Linked DNA regions of Homo sapiens. The protein of the gene in region 2 purifies or fractionates together with the protein of the main gene of each other region. This does not show direct contact. Each region holds a gene or a part of one and is shown on either strand. Other genes may lie near its edges.

Region 1 (3,500 bases), on a different chromosome or scaffold from region 2:
GATCCCAAATTCTCATTAGCTTTATTTTTAAGTATCATTTCCCTGTTCTGCAGAGGGATATTATCCATAGCTTTTGTATTTTACTACCTCAAGGAGATGCAGCTAATAAATAAAAGCTCTATGAGTACTTATGGCTTTGGGAGTAACTGAAGACAAAAACTACTAGTGGAAAACTGTATACAGATTCTGGCCTTCAGGTGGATTTCCCAGCCCTCTTTCTGTTTGCTCATTCCACATTGTGCTAGGTCAAGACTGTGAACATTCTAATCTTCTTTGTGGGCATCTTCTGAGAAGAATTAGACATACATGTCTTAATTTCCAAAGTGCAATAGCCAGGCCAGACCTTTCTGGCTTAGATGAGTGAATACCTAGATAGCCAAGGTAATGGATGCAAATGGCCCAGATCTGTTTCTGTTGGCTCAGAGTGATGTCTTGAGTTTGGTTGAAGGGCAAAGACAGGTATTTAGAACTTGAACTCTAGTTCTATGAAGTGAAGAGTTGGACTCCTGGACTTCTGGTTCCAGGAGTCATACTACTGTTTTTTGGTTGTAATAGTGAGTTTTGGGACAATGCCAATCACCTGGGATATTTCTTTGGCCTTCTTGTAACCTTGCCCATCTCTATCATTGAGCCTAATTTGGTCTTTGACCTTCATAACATGGTGGCATCTGGGTGGCCATTTCCCTTTCTGACACGTTTTCTCTAAAGTCCCCTCACTTTCTTTGTATTTTTTTCTTGGCTTTTATGGCAGAATGGAACAGGGGACTCAAATGATTTCTGGCGGATTGAGGTCGTAAACAGGAAATTTGGAAACCGGATCAAAGTGCTGAGAAGTCGAATTCGCTTCATCCATTTGGTCACAGGTTGTGTCCTGGGCTCCTCGGGAAAGGTTCTGCCCAAGTGGTAAGTCTCTAGGGTTTTGCTGTCCCAATCGAGGGTCCTGATTTTCCTTTCACTCTACAAGGAGTATGCCAGAAGCTTTTGTTTTCCTGTGTTCACCTGCTGTCTGCTTGTTCTTAGTGGCAGATGGAGGGAGAGTAGATATCAGGTGTATTATGGAGCACAGAACTCCGGGGGAGCTTCGGTGTTTTATGTGTTCTGATAGTTCAACATTTTCACATCTGGCTGGTGCTAATAACTCTCTGGGTCTATGTCTTTTTCTAAAATGGGAATACTGTATGCTAGACTATCCTAGGATAGTTGTCCAACATGGAACATGAAGAAATAATGGCCACCATGTGGAAAAGAGAAGGAGCCTGTGGATTTAAGAGCAGAAGACAGTGTCACTCTCTGGTGGATTTCACGTCTTCTGAGAGACATCTGTGACTTCTGCTTTTCACAGGGGCTGGGAGCAGTTGGAAGTTACTTGCACCCCATACCTGAAAGAAACCCTCAACTCCATCTGGAATGTGGAGGACCATATCAATCCCAAGTGTGAGTGAGGTCACTTTCTGGGCTGGCTCTGGAGGGAAGCATTTATAAGAAACCCTTATCTTAGAAAAGTAAGCGTTTGTAAACTGTGCTATCCCTTCAACTTGCTGCTGTTTGTTCCTTGTTAACACTCTCTTTCTATGAGTTGTCTGTACCTACATAGCATACTCCTTTTCCTTCTCATCCACTCCCTCCGTAAACTCCTCTCCCTAAAGTGGCCAGTGGCCATCTGCAGATCCATCTGTCTCGTCTTCCTCTGGGCTCCTCTCTCCCCTGCACCATGGGCACCTCCCCAGCCTCCAGGCTTGGAGCAAGCTGCTACTTTCCCTTTATGCCTCAGTGTAGAGTCGCTCCCCCGCCCCCCCACATATCCAGCCAATGCTTTTATAGAAAGTGACTGCCACAGCCCTGATCTGTGCCCCACATCTCTACACCCAAGCTCCAATTTGATATTTCCACTGCGTTGTCAGCTTCAACTCAATAAGTATTTGGATTCATCATCTGTTTTCCTAAACTACCCACCTCAAGCTTATGTGTGCCTTCATTTTGTTCTTCTTCCCACCTAATCTAGCCAAACCCACTAATCAACTAATTCAACAACTCTTTATCAAGTATGCCAGGAACCACATGGGGCCCTGTGGACATATTGGCGAGGAGACAGACTTGGTCCCCATCCCGACAGCAGCTGCTCCAGGCGTCCAGAATGATTTATTCCTCATTCCCAGGCCCTTCAAAGGGCCACAGTGACTCGGGGGCTGTGCAGCTGTCCCTTATGCCTAATAGGAGAGCAGCATTTGAGCCAGTACCACAGTGAAAAGCAATGGTGCTGGGAGCTGTTGGAGCACCAAGCAGGTGAAACCTTGTTGTCTATTTCCTTTGCATTTCTTAGAATGCCTGATGAGTTCTTCATACAGCTAAGTAAATGATCAAGAATTGGGCCAAGCTTTCTTCTGTCTCCTCAACAGTTGTGAACTTGTCAGCAAGGCTGCATTTGGATTCTGGTGGGAATGTGGACACCATGGACAGACTGAGGAAAGAATGTATGACAAAGGCTTTTCTCCTGCATTTTTTTCCCCTAGTGCCAAACATCAGCCTGGATGTGCTACAGCCCAGTTTTCCTGAGATCTTGCTGGAATCCCACATGGTCATGATCCGGGTATGTGTCCCCTTCTCATTTCATGGCGTCTCTAAGAGCTTTTGGGCAGCCATGAATTTGGATCACAAGTCAATGCCATGCTACAGATCCATTCCCCCTTGTGGAGGAATTTGAAAGCATCTTTACTACGGTTTTCTGTGATCCTCAAAGGCATTTCCCTCACCACAGAATGAGGATGGTGGTGATGATGGTGATACCAGTGACTGCTTGTACAGCTCATGTGCCAGGCACTACGCTAAGCACTATACTCATCTGATACTTATTACAATCATATGGAGGTTGCCATCATTCCCAGTTACAGGAGAGGGAACTGACATACAAAGAGGTCAGGGAACTTGCCCAGGGTCACACAGCTAAGTGTAAGAGGTAGATCCAGCCCTCAGAGCCAGGCTGGTAGGCTTTTAGAGTTACTGCTAGTTACCACTACACTCCTTCACCTCTAAGTGATTTGTGAATCTGCCCAAGTGGCAGAGCCCCTGAAAATCATAGTGCTCTTGGTTGAAGATCATGAGATACTGATAGTTCATTCCATCATATGAAATCAGGATCAGTTAGGATGGATAGCTAATTTGAGTGTGTTGTTTATATGCAGCATGAAATCCCAGCCACGAGCCCACTCATATTCCTGGACAGAAACTGCTTAGGCAGGGCATGATTGATTCTTTTTAAGGTTTTCTAAGACATTGTTTGCACTCTCTATCATTAGTAGCTGACAGCAGTTGTAGCATCAAAGGTTTAAGAAAAATTCAGAGAAGAAATCTTTAAATTGAGAAAATTCTACTCACTAGCTTAAATTTTCCCCTGCTGTAGTCCTGCTGTTTAGTGGAAGACCCCCTTATTCTGGCTTATGGAAAACCTGTGTTCTGCAGGAATAATGTTTAAGAATCACTATCTCAAGCCAGATATGTGATTA
Region 2 (2,977 bases):
TGCTGACTCTGCCCTACCCTGCCTTGCCCTGGAGAGGCACAGCACTCCCCATCCCTGCCTCCTGACACCAGTTCTGCCCCCACAGAGGTGTCCACCCTGCAGCCGCTGCCTCCTGGGCCCCGGGCCCCAGCCCCCCAGCCCCTGCCGCCCAGCTCGCGGCTCCAGGATTCCTGCAAGCAGGGGCATCTTGCCTGCGGGGACCTGTGTGTGCCCCCGGAACAACTGTGTGACTTCGAGGAGCAGTGCGCAGGGGGCGAGGACGAGCAGGCCTGTGGTAAAGGGGCTCAACCTCCTGCAGACCTCCTGCTGCGGAGCCAAGGGGGTAGGCGCCGGGGCAGGCTGAGGACTCTGAGGACTCTGCCATTCAGTGCCGGCTGCTGTTCCAGGCACCACAGACTTTGAGTCCCCCGAGGCTGGGGGCTGGGAGGACGCCAGCGTGGGGCGGCTGCAGTGGCGGCGTGTCTCAGCCCAGGAGAGCCAGGGGTCCAGTGCAGCTGCTGCTGGTGAGGCCCAAGGCCCAAGGCTCAAGCCCCCGCCCGGGTGTGAGCAGCGTCCTCAGAGGGGTCTCTGCTCTGCCTCTGCACTACAGAGGGTCTCTGGACTGGGGATCCCTGAGGGACAGAGTGGGGCCCTGGAAGGGATGAGGCTCTGAGCACCATGCTCTTCCCCTAGGGCACTTCCTGTCTCTGCAGCGGGCCTGGGGGCAGCTAGGCGCTGAGGCCCGGGTCCTCACACCCCTCCTTGGCCCTTCTGGCCCCAGCTGTGAACTCCACCTGGCTTATTATTTACAGAGCCAGCCCCGAGGTACCGCCACACTCCGCAAGTTCCCTGGCCAGCCCCTGGGTGCTCCCTGCACAGTGGGAGGGGTCTGGGGCCGGGTGACCCACAGTGCCCCCCGCCCCGCTGGCCAGGCTTCCTGGCACTAGTTGTGGTGGACAACGGCTCCCGGGAGCTGGCATGGCAGGCCCTGAGCAGCAGTGCAGGCATCTGGAAGGTGGACAAGGTCCTTCTAGGGGCCCGCCGCCGGCCCTTCCGGGTGAGGAGGGCAGCCCAGAGTGGGAGCTCCGCTGGAGCGGGCCCTGACTTAACCATCCTCCTCATCCCCCTACCCCATGAAGCTGGAGTTTGTCGGTTTGGTGGACTTGGATGGCCCTGACCAGCAGGGAGCTGGGGTGGACAACGTGACCCTGAGGGACTGTAGCCCCACAGTGACCACCGAGAGAGACAGAGGTTCCTGCTGCCCATCCTCACTCCCACCTGGGTGCTCCCCTTACACTCCTCCAGGGACCCCGGAGCTTCCACCTTCTCAGGGCTCTGGAGGGGGAGGGGAGAAGGTGTGTGACGCCACCTGGCCCCACCCCCAGAGGTCTCCTGTAACTTTGAGCGGGACACATGCAGCTGGTACCCAGGCCACCTCTCAGACACACACTGGCGCTGGGTGGAGAGCCGCGGCCCTGACCACGACCACACCACAGGCCAAGGTAGGATGGGCGCTCAGACCGGGGGTGGCTTTCAGACGAGAGTGGGGCATCTCTGCAGCACAGCCCCATGCCCCCTGCAGGCCACTTTGTGCTCCTGGACCCCACAGACCCCCTGGCCTGGGGCCACAGTGCCCACCTGCTCTCCAGGCCCCAGGTGCCAGCAGCACCCACGGAGTGTCTCAGCTTCTGGTACCACCTCCATGGGCCCCAGATTGGTGAGTGGACCTGGAAACAGGGCAGAGCCTGTGGGGAGGCCCCCGGGGGTTCAGAGTCCCCCGCTCTGACACCCATCAAGGCACAGGAGAGAGGTCAGTTATGGACTGGTCCCCTCCCTGCAGGGACTCTGCGCCTAGCCATGAGACGGGAAGGGGAGGAGACACACCTGTGGTCGCGGTCAGGCACCCAGGGCAACCGCTGGCACGAGGCCTGGGCCACCCTTTCCCACCAGCCTGGCTCCCATGCCCAGTACCAGGTGAGGCCTGGCACCCGGGTGGGAGGACAGGGCAGGGCCCCTGGCCAGCTGACACCCTCCACCCCCAGCTGCTGTTCGAGGGCCTCCGGGACGGATACCACGGCACCATGGCGCTGGACGATGTGGCCGTGCGGCCGGGCCCCTGCTGGGCCCCTAATTACTGCTCCTTTGAGGACTCAGACTGCGGCTTCTCCCCTGGAGGCCAAGGTCTCTGGAGGCGGCAGGCCAATGCCTCGGGCCATGCTGCCTGGGGCCCCCCAACAGACCATACCACTGAGACAGCCCAAGGTATGGGGGCCTGGCAGGGGCAGGGATTGAGGGGCTGGCCAGGGGCTGGCAGGCTGATGCTGGCACCTCCAGGGCACTACATGGTGGTGGACACAAGCCCAGACGCACTACCCCGGGGCCAGACGGCCTCCCTGACCTCCAAGGAGCACAGGCCCCTGGCCCAGCCTGCTTGTCTGACCTTCTGGTACCACGGGAGCCTCCGCAGCCCAGGTGAGGGGCTTTGGGAGGGGGCCCCAGTGGGCTCAGGGAAGCTTGGCCTGGTGTCCCCACCAGCCTTGTGCTGAGGCCACTGGGGAGCCTCTTGCGCCCGCCAGGCTGGGAGCCTGGGAGCTCAGACCAGGGCCTGCAGGTGCTCTCCCCACACTGCTGACCTGGGCCGCCCCTGCTGGCAGGCACCCTGCGGGTCTACCTGGAGGAGCGCGGGAGGCACCAGGTGCTCAGCCTCAGTGCCCACGGCGGGCTTGCCTGGCGCCTGGGCAGCATGGACGTGCAGGCCGAGCGAGCCTGGAGGGTGAGTGCAGGGTGGGGTGCCCCTCCCCCTCCCCCTCCCCCGAGGGCTGCCTGGACCCGCTGAGGCTGCCCTGCCCTGCACCCGCCAGGTGGTGTTTGAGGCAGTGGCCGCAGGCGTGGCACACTCCTACGTGGCTCTGGATGATCTGCTCCTCCAGGACGGGCCCTGCCCTCAGCCAGGTGGGAGCCCTGCCGTGGCCTCGGCCCTGCTCTGGGGTGCCTGCCT
Region 3 (3,500 bases), on a different chromosome or scaffold from region 2:
TAGCAAGGGAAAGGCCCTGAGGTTGGAGTGTGTTAAGGCAAGTGAGGAGGCCAGTGAGATTGGAATGAAGTGAGGGGGAAGGAGTTACAGGCAAAAAGATCAGGAATATAGGGTGGAGAGAGTGAGAGAATAGATTATTATAAAGCTTTACTATTGCCATGACTAAGTTTTACTAGGATGGCAACGGGAGACTGATAATACACATTAGCATATCAAGGGCTGAAGTCTGCGCATAAAGAGGCCTGTTAGACCCAGTGTCAAACGTTTTTTATTCCAATGTTTATTGACATCCTACATTACTAATGTTTTGCAGAATACAGTTTGGTAAACATTGTTCAGAAGTATCAGGTGAGCTGTGTTTTGATAAATATATAAAAGCAGTCATTTGTTTTAAATTCATTTGTTTCTTGTAGGTTATCACTGTGAATATAAGATGCGGACAGGAAGGAAACCTGATGGCTGTGCTATTTGCTTCAAACATTCCAAATTTTCACTCTTGTCAGTGAACCCAGTGGAATTCTTCCGCCCTGATATTTCTCTGTTGGACAGAGACAATGTTGGATTAGTTTTACTCTTACAGCCCAAAATTCCATATGCTGCCTGCCCTGCAATCTGCGTAGCAAATACGCATCTGTTGTATAATCCAAGGCGAGGTGATATTAAGCTGACGCAATTGGCAATGCTACTGGCAGAGATTTCCAGTGTTGCCCACCAGAAAGATGGCAGCTTCTGCCCTATTGTTATGTGTGGTGACTTTAATTCTGTTCCTGGTTCTCCACTATATAGTTTCATAAAGGAAGGAAAATTGAATTATGAAGGACTTCCCATAGGAAAGGTAAGTGCTTTCTTCATTGTTATTAGGGAGTGGACATAGTTGCTCTGCTCATGATAATGTGAAGATAGTCATTACATGGCTATTTGAAAACCTTGGATGATCCAGTACCCTCACTTTATCAAACTATGATTTTCCATGACTTTTTTTTTTTTTTTTTTTTTTTTTTTGAGACAGTCTCACTCTGTCGCCCAGGCTGGAGTGCAGTGTCATGATCTCAGCTCACTGCAAGCTCCACCTCCCGGGTTCAAGTGATTCTCCTGCCTCAGCCTCCCGAGTGGCTGGGGTTACAGGTGTGTGCCACCACACCTGGCTAATTTTTGTATTTTTAGTAGAGACGGGGTTTCAGCTTGTTGACCAGGCTGGTCTCGAACTCCTTACGTCGTGATCCACCTGCTTCGGCCTCCCAAAGTGCTGGGATTACAGGCGTGAGCCACTGTGCCCAGCTTCTTCTAGTAAGTAATTATTTTCACTTGGTTGATTTATATCTTTTTCATCTATCTGTGGCAACATACTGCTTGGAGGAATTAACAGGCAGCAAAAAAAAAAAAAGTATTGACAGACATGGATACTTCACCGATAAGTAACACAAGGTGGCAGGATAGAATTTTGAATGCTGGTTGTGGGCAAAATAGTAATTTAACATTTATTATACAAGTTTCCGTTGTAGAATAATAAATATTTTCTTTAGCTTAGCACAATTTATCTCGTGATTATTTTTATTGTGCTTTCCTCTCCTTACTTTAGATCATTTCATCTTCAGTATATTTACCAAAATAAGCTCTCCAACACTGGAGTTTTGAGTAATAGTTTAAAATTATTTATTTTTTTTTTTGAGATGGAGTCTTGCTCTTTCGCCAGGCTGGAGTGCAATGGTGGGATCTCGGCTCACTGCATCCTCTGTCTCCCAGGTTCAAGCAATTCTGCCTCAGCCTCCCGAGTAGCTGGGACTACAGGCTTGCACCACCAAGCCCGGCTAATTTTTTGTATTTTTAGTAGAGATGGGGTTTCACAGTGTTAGCCAGGATGGTCTCTAACTCCCAACCTTAGGTGACCTGCAGGTTCACCTCGGCCTCCCAAAGTGCTGGGATTACAGGCGTGAGCCACCATGCCCAGCCAATAAGTTTAAAATTTTGTAAGAGTTAATCTCTCTTAGTACAGGTATACTTCATTTTATTGTGCTTTGCTTTATCGAGCTTCAAACATACTGCATTTTACAAAATTGAAGTTTCATAGCAACTCTACCTTAAGCAGCTCTATCATTGCCATTTTTCCAACAGCATGTGCTCAATTCCTGTCTCTGTCACCTTTTGGTAACTCTTGCATTACTCAAGCATTTTCATTATTATTAACATCTGTTATGTTGATCCAAGATTAGTGATCTTCGATATTACTATTGTAATGGTTTTGGGGTGTTATGAACTGTACCCATATAAAATGAGAACTTAATCGATAAATGTGTTCTGACTGCTCCACTAATCATCTCTCTCCCCCTACTTGGGCCTCTATATTCCCTGAAGCACAACCATATTGAAACTAGGCCAAGTAATAGCCCTGCAGCGCTCTCTAAGTGTTCAAGTAGAAGGAAGACTCACATGTCTCACTTTGAATCAAAAGCTAGAAATGATTAAGCTTAGCAAGGAAGGCATTTTGAAAGCTGAGAGAGGCCAAAAGCTAGGCCTCTTGCACCAAACAGCAAAGTTGTGAATGCAAGGAAAAGTTCTTGAAGGAAGTTAGAAGTGCTACTCCAGTGTATGAAGGCATAATAAGAAAGCAAAACAGCCTTATTGCTAATATGGAGAAAGCTTGAGTGGTCTGGATAGAAGATCAAACCAGCCACAGGATTCCCTTGAGTCAAAGCCTAATCCAGAGGAATGCATTAAGTCTCTTCAATTTTTTGAAGGCTGAGAGATGAGGAAGCTGCAGAAGAGAAGTTGGAAGTTAACAGAGGTTAATTTATGAGGTTTAAAGAATGAAGCCATCTCCATAACATAAAAGTACAGGTAAAGCAGCAAGTGCTGCTGATGTAGAAGCTGCAGTAGGTTATCCAGAAGATCTAGCTAAGATCATTGATGAAGGTGGCTACACTAAATAATAGATTTTTTTTTTTTTTTTTTTGAGACAGGATCTCGCGCTGTTGCCCAGGCTGGACTGCAGTGACACGATCTCGGTTCACTGCTACCTCTGCCTCCTGGGTTCCAGCGATTCTGCTTCAGCTTCCCAAGTAGGTGGGATTACAGGTGCATGCCTCCACGCCGGGCTAATTTTTTAATATTTTTTGGTAGAGGTGGCGTTTCACCATGTTGCCCAGGCTGGTCTCGAACTCCTGGGCTTGAGCAATCCTCCTGCCTCAGCCCCTCAAAGTGTTGGGATTACAGGCATGAGCCACCGCACCTGGCCAACAATTTTTAATGTGGATGAAACCACTTTATATTGCAAGAAGATGCCATCTAGGACTTCATAACTAGAAAGAAGAAGTCAGTGCCTGGTTTCAAAGGACAGGCTGACTCTTTTGTTAGGAGCTAATATAGCTTGTTACTTTAAGTTAAAGTCAGCATTCATTGACCATTCTGAAAATCCTAGGGCACTTAAAAATTATGCTAAATCCACTCTACCTGTGCTATGTCAGTGGAAAAACAAAGCTTGGGGATGACAGTGCATCTGTTTA
Region 4 (3,500 bases), on a different chromosome or scaffold from region 2:
CCCCCGGCCCCCCACCATGTGTGTGAGCCTTACCTTGGACTGCACGCTGAGGGAGCGGATGGAAGGGACAGCAAGGAGGCCGAAGCGCTCGTAGAGGTACTCATTGGAGGAGCTTCCCTTCAGGAGGGCGAAAGGAATGAGGTAGAGCTCCCCCTCCAGAACCAGGATGAGCTGCCGGTGCCGGCCCACGGGGCCGCTGGAGTGCATCAGGCCCTATGGAGCAAGCACGGAGAGGCTGACATGGGTGGCCCAGCAGGCAGGGGTTTCAGGCACCAGGACAACCCTGAGCCCTAGCCTGGATGACACAAGCACGAGCAGGTGAGGCCTGTGGGGGTGTGGGGCGCCATGGGGCATGGGCCGAGTTGCAGCCCTGCAGGAGCGGCACCAACTGGCATGCTCGCTTGTGGACTGGCAAGGGCTGGCCTGGCAGCATCCATCTGCCTCACAGTCCTGAGAAGGTTAGAGGACAGTTTCTTGAAGTTCACAAGAACCTGAAGTGGGTTGGAGACCGGTCTGTACCGCACAGGCACCCTGAGAAGGGGTGGGAATGGCCCCTCTCAAAACAAGATCTGTTTTCCATTTCAATGGACAAGAGGCTAGAAAATCACAGTGAGGACGGGAGGTCTGGGGGCTGGCATGACAGCCCCTGTAGAAGGGGATGGGCTGGGTTCTAGGATCTTCCGTGACCTCCTCTGAGAAAGAGTGGCCCCTTGGCTCTGGGCTTGGGAGGTGCCGTCCCCACTTGTTCCCTCTGGGGATGTCAGGGGACCCAATGCATGGATGACTCCCATCCCTCTTGAAAGGCCGAGCATGAGGACTCGAGGCAGGGTGTGCACAGGGCCACAGCGGACACAGCCTCATTCCTGTTCATTGCAGAACAAGGCTAAGGGCGCGGGCATCTTAATGAGAGCAGCAGGCAACAATCCTGGAAGCTGGGTCCACACAGACTGCGGTGAACAAAGAGGTGGCGTGGAAGCTGCTGCTGCAGCCCAGAGCCTGCCAAGAAGGTCCCAGGTCCACAGGGCCTGCGCAACACTGGGTGCCAGGGGTGGGGCTGGCCTGCCCCCCAACCCCATCTGCTGAGGAGTGGCTGACAAGCGGACACCCACCAGGGTGCCACTCGCTTGTGCCTGGGGAAGCAAATGTGCTCGCTTGACCCGTCTGATGTGCTGCCGTGGGCACTTGACTGAGAGTGGCAGAGCACTAGGCTAACCCAAAGTGACACATGCCTGGCGGGATGTTCAGTCTCTGTAAACCCATATGGTTTTTTTTTTTCTTTCCTTTAAAAAAAATTTCTAGCTCCATCTAGCGAAAGCAGAAATAAAAAGTATTAGGCCAATTTGTTTTTCATTTGTTTGCTGTAAGAGCTACAGCATGGGCCAGGCACCAGTGGCTCACACCTGTAATCCCAGCACTTTGGGAGCCCAAGGCGGGAGGATTATCTGAGGTCAGGAGTGCAACATGGTGAAACTGCATCTCTACTAAAAATCCAAAATAACCGGGTGTGGTGGCATGCACCTGTAGTCCCAACTACTCAGGAGGCTGAGGCAGGAGAATCGCTTGAACCCAGGAGGTGAAGATTGTAGTGGGCCAAGATTATACCAGTGTACTCCAGCCTGGGGGACAGAGCGAGACTGTGTCTCAAAAACAACAACAAAAAAAGAGCTACAGTATTTCCCAAGAGGAGGTAAATTAATCACTGTTCAATTGTGCAACCTAGGCAGGAAGAAGTAGGGGTGTGTCACAGTGACCCCGACACTGTCTATGGATGAGCTCTGGGTTAGCACAGGGAGGAGAAAGAGTTGTAGGGCACCTGGGCCCCATGGCCTGCCATGGGCCACACCTGAGCTCCCTGGCCGGCTCCATAGGTAAAGGTGGCTCAGGGGGCTGCTCTGGAGGGCAGTGCCACCACACCGTGGAGGTGTGCCAGTGAACCTCGAACCAGCCGCAGTGGCACAGCTGATGCTGCCCTGACCCTGCTGACAGGGTCAGCAGCTGTGACAGTGATGACCACCTGCTGCTCAGTGGGAACTGTGCTGCCTGAGAATGGGTAGTGTGGGGCTTGAGCCACCTGCCATGTGCAAAACTGGACCCACTTCCACTGTTCCAGAGTCGCAGGGCTTTGCTGTGACAAGATGCCAGCCCCAGCCCCAGCCCCAGGCCTGCAGGTCCTCCCTGGGCTCCTGCTGCCTAAGCCCAAACCACAGTAAGTTTCTGTCAGATATCATCCCACAGGCTACTGCCTTCACCAGGACACACGCCACTCATAGACAAGTCCCTGGTCATGACAGCACCTAACTGTGTGAACCGGAGGGAAGCTTGGCAAGCTGAAAAATGGAGAAGTGAGGCTGGAATCCACGCAGAGCAAACATTCACTGGCAGCCCATCTTCGTAGAACTCTGCTAACTCTGCCCACGAAACCTCATCTGCGGCACAAGCCTAATGATCAGAGAATGCATGTCCTTGAAGGCAGCTTGTCTGTCTGCTCCAACACTCCACCAGGGGTGGGGGGCATCTCCTGTGGCCCTATTGTCAGAAGTCTCCCAAGCTGGGCCTCGACTTTCCCATCAGCCACTGAGTGGTGTCCGTCATGTGCCTACTGGGGACCGTAGGGAAGTCAGATAAATTTAGGATATGGTCCTTGCTTGCAGACTTATGATGATGTACTTAGAAAACTAAAATGCACACAAGAGGCCATTGCTGAGTGAAACTCAGTATTGTCAAATGTAACACCTTCATGGCAGCATGGCAGCCCCAGAACGGGGAAAGCCTACCCAGGCTGACGCTGGGCCCACCCAGGAGGGTCCGTGAGGGTTGGGGAAGGCCTGGGCAGATGCTGTTGCCAGGTGAGCACAAGGCTAAAGAGGGACATGGGAGCCAGACTGTGGGGGCGCTGAAGATCAGGCAAGAAAGTGTGGTTCTTGTTGGCTGTCAGGACCCGCCATGCCTTCTCAAGCTGAGCCCTGCAAAGCATTGAGAGGCAGCCTGCCTGCCTGCGGGAGAGGGGGCTGTACCCAAGAGTAATTCAGACCAGGGCATGCCCACCAAGAGAAGAGACAAGGAGACTTGCTGGGACTCAGTGAGAGTGACCTTAGCAGGTGAGGAGAAGTCTGAAGTCCAGGCTGGGAGATAGGGAGGCTGTTCTCTGAACCTCATATCCCAATTTGGAGGTCTGGGTCCTCCCTGCATCATGCCTAGGAGCTGGTACCAAGCTTGGCTCATGCATACAACCCTGGGTGAAGGTCCCCAAATGGGACCCCTGTCCAAACTCTGTGAAATGAGGCAGGTGACAGTCGCAGCTGTTCTCTGAAATGTGTGGGCTTGTGGGGAGACGGGTAGAACAGCAGGCTGACAGCTGCCGTTCAAAGGGGGAAACTGATTGGACATGTTAGAGATAATGCCCAGGAAACTTGTCAGCTCTGACTCTGGTGTATGTGTGCTGTCCTTGCACTGAAAGATTAGTTATAATCCAACGTGAACTTGAAAAGGGGAAAGCAAGC

Evidence for each region.
Region 1: the proteins of MAMDC4 (region 2) and POMT2 purify together in Homo sapiens (affinity purification with mass spectrometry; one large-scale study listed by BioGRID and IntAct). This does not show direct contact.
Region 3: the proteins of MAMDC4 (region 2) and ANGEL2 purify together in Homo sapiens (affinity purification with mass spectrometry; one large-scale study listed by BioGRID and IntAct). This does not show direct contact.
Region 4: the proteins of MAMDC4 (region 2) and TTC28 purify together in Homo sapiens (affinity purification with mass spectrometry; one large-scale study listed by BioGRID and IntAct). This does not show direct contact.

What each region holds. Positions count from the first base shown.
Region 1 is NC_000014.9:77,282,884-77,286,383, reverse strand, and holds part of POMT2 (protein O-mannosyl-transferase 2), read left to right. Parts: intron 1-751; coding exon 752-903; intron 904-1,342; coding exon 1,343-1,434; intron 1,435-2,510; coding exon 2,511-2,587; intron 2,588-3,500. UniProt on the Homo sapiens protein: Transfers mannosyl residues to the hydroxyl group of serine or threonine residues. Coexpression of both POMT1 and POMT2 is necessary for enzyme activity, expression of either POMT1 or POMT2 alone is insufficient.
Region 2 is NC_000009.12:136,855,346-136,858,322, forward strand, and holds part of MAMDC4 (apical endosomal glycoprotein precursor), read left to right. Parts: intron 1-85; coding exon 86-274; intron 275-386; coding exon 387-503; intron 504-672; coding exon 673-804; intron 805-1,364; coding exon 1,365-1,481; intron 1,482-1,561; coding exon 1,562-1,696; intron 1,697-1,819; coding exon 1,820-1,953; intron 1,954-2,021; coding exon 2,022-2,241; intron 2,242-2,313; coding exon 2,314-2,451; intron 2,452-2,633; coding exon 2,634-2,752; intron 2,753-2,840; coding exon 2,841-2,931; intron 2,932-2,977. UniProt on the Homo sapiens protein: Probably involved in the sorting and selective transport of receptors and ligands across polarized epithelia.
Region 3 is NC_000001.11:213,002,368-213,005,867, reverse strand, and holds part of ANGEL2 (protein angel homolog 2), read left to right. Parts: intron 1-413; coding exon 414-835; intron 836-3,500.
Region 4 is NC_000022.11:28,001,341-28,004,840, forward strand, and holds part of TTC28 (tetratricopeptide repeat protein 28), read right to left. Parts: intron 1,340-3,500; exon of another isoform or gene 214-1,339; coding exon 34-213; exon of another isoform or gene 1-33. UniProt on the Homo sapiens protein: During mitosis, may be involved in the condensation of spindle midzone microtubules, leading to the formation of midbody.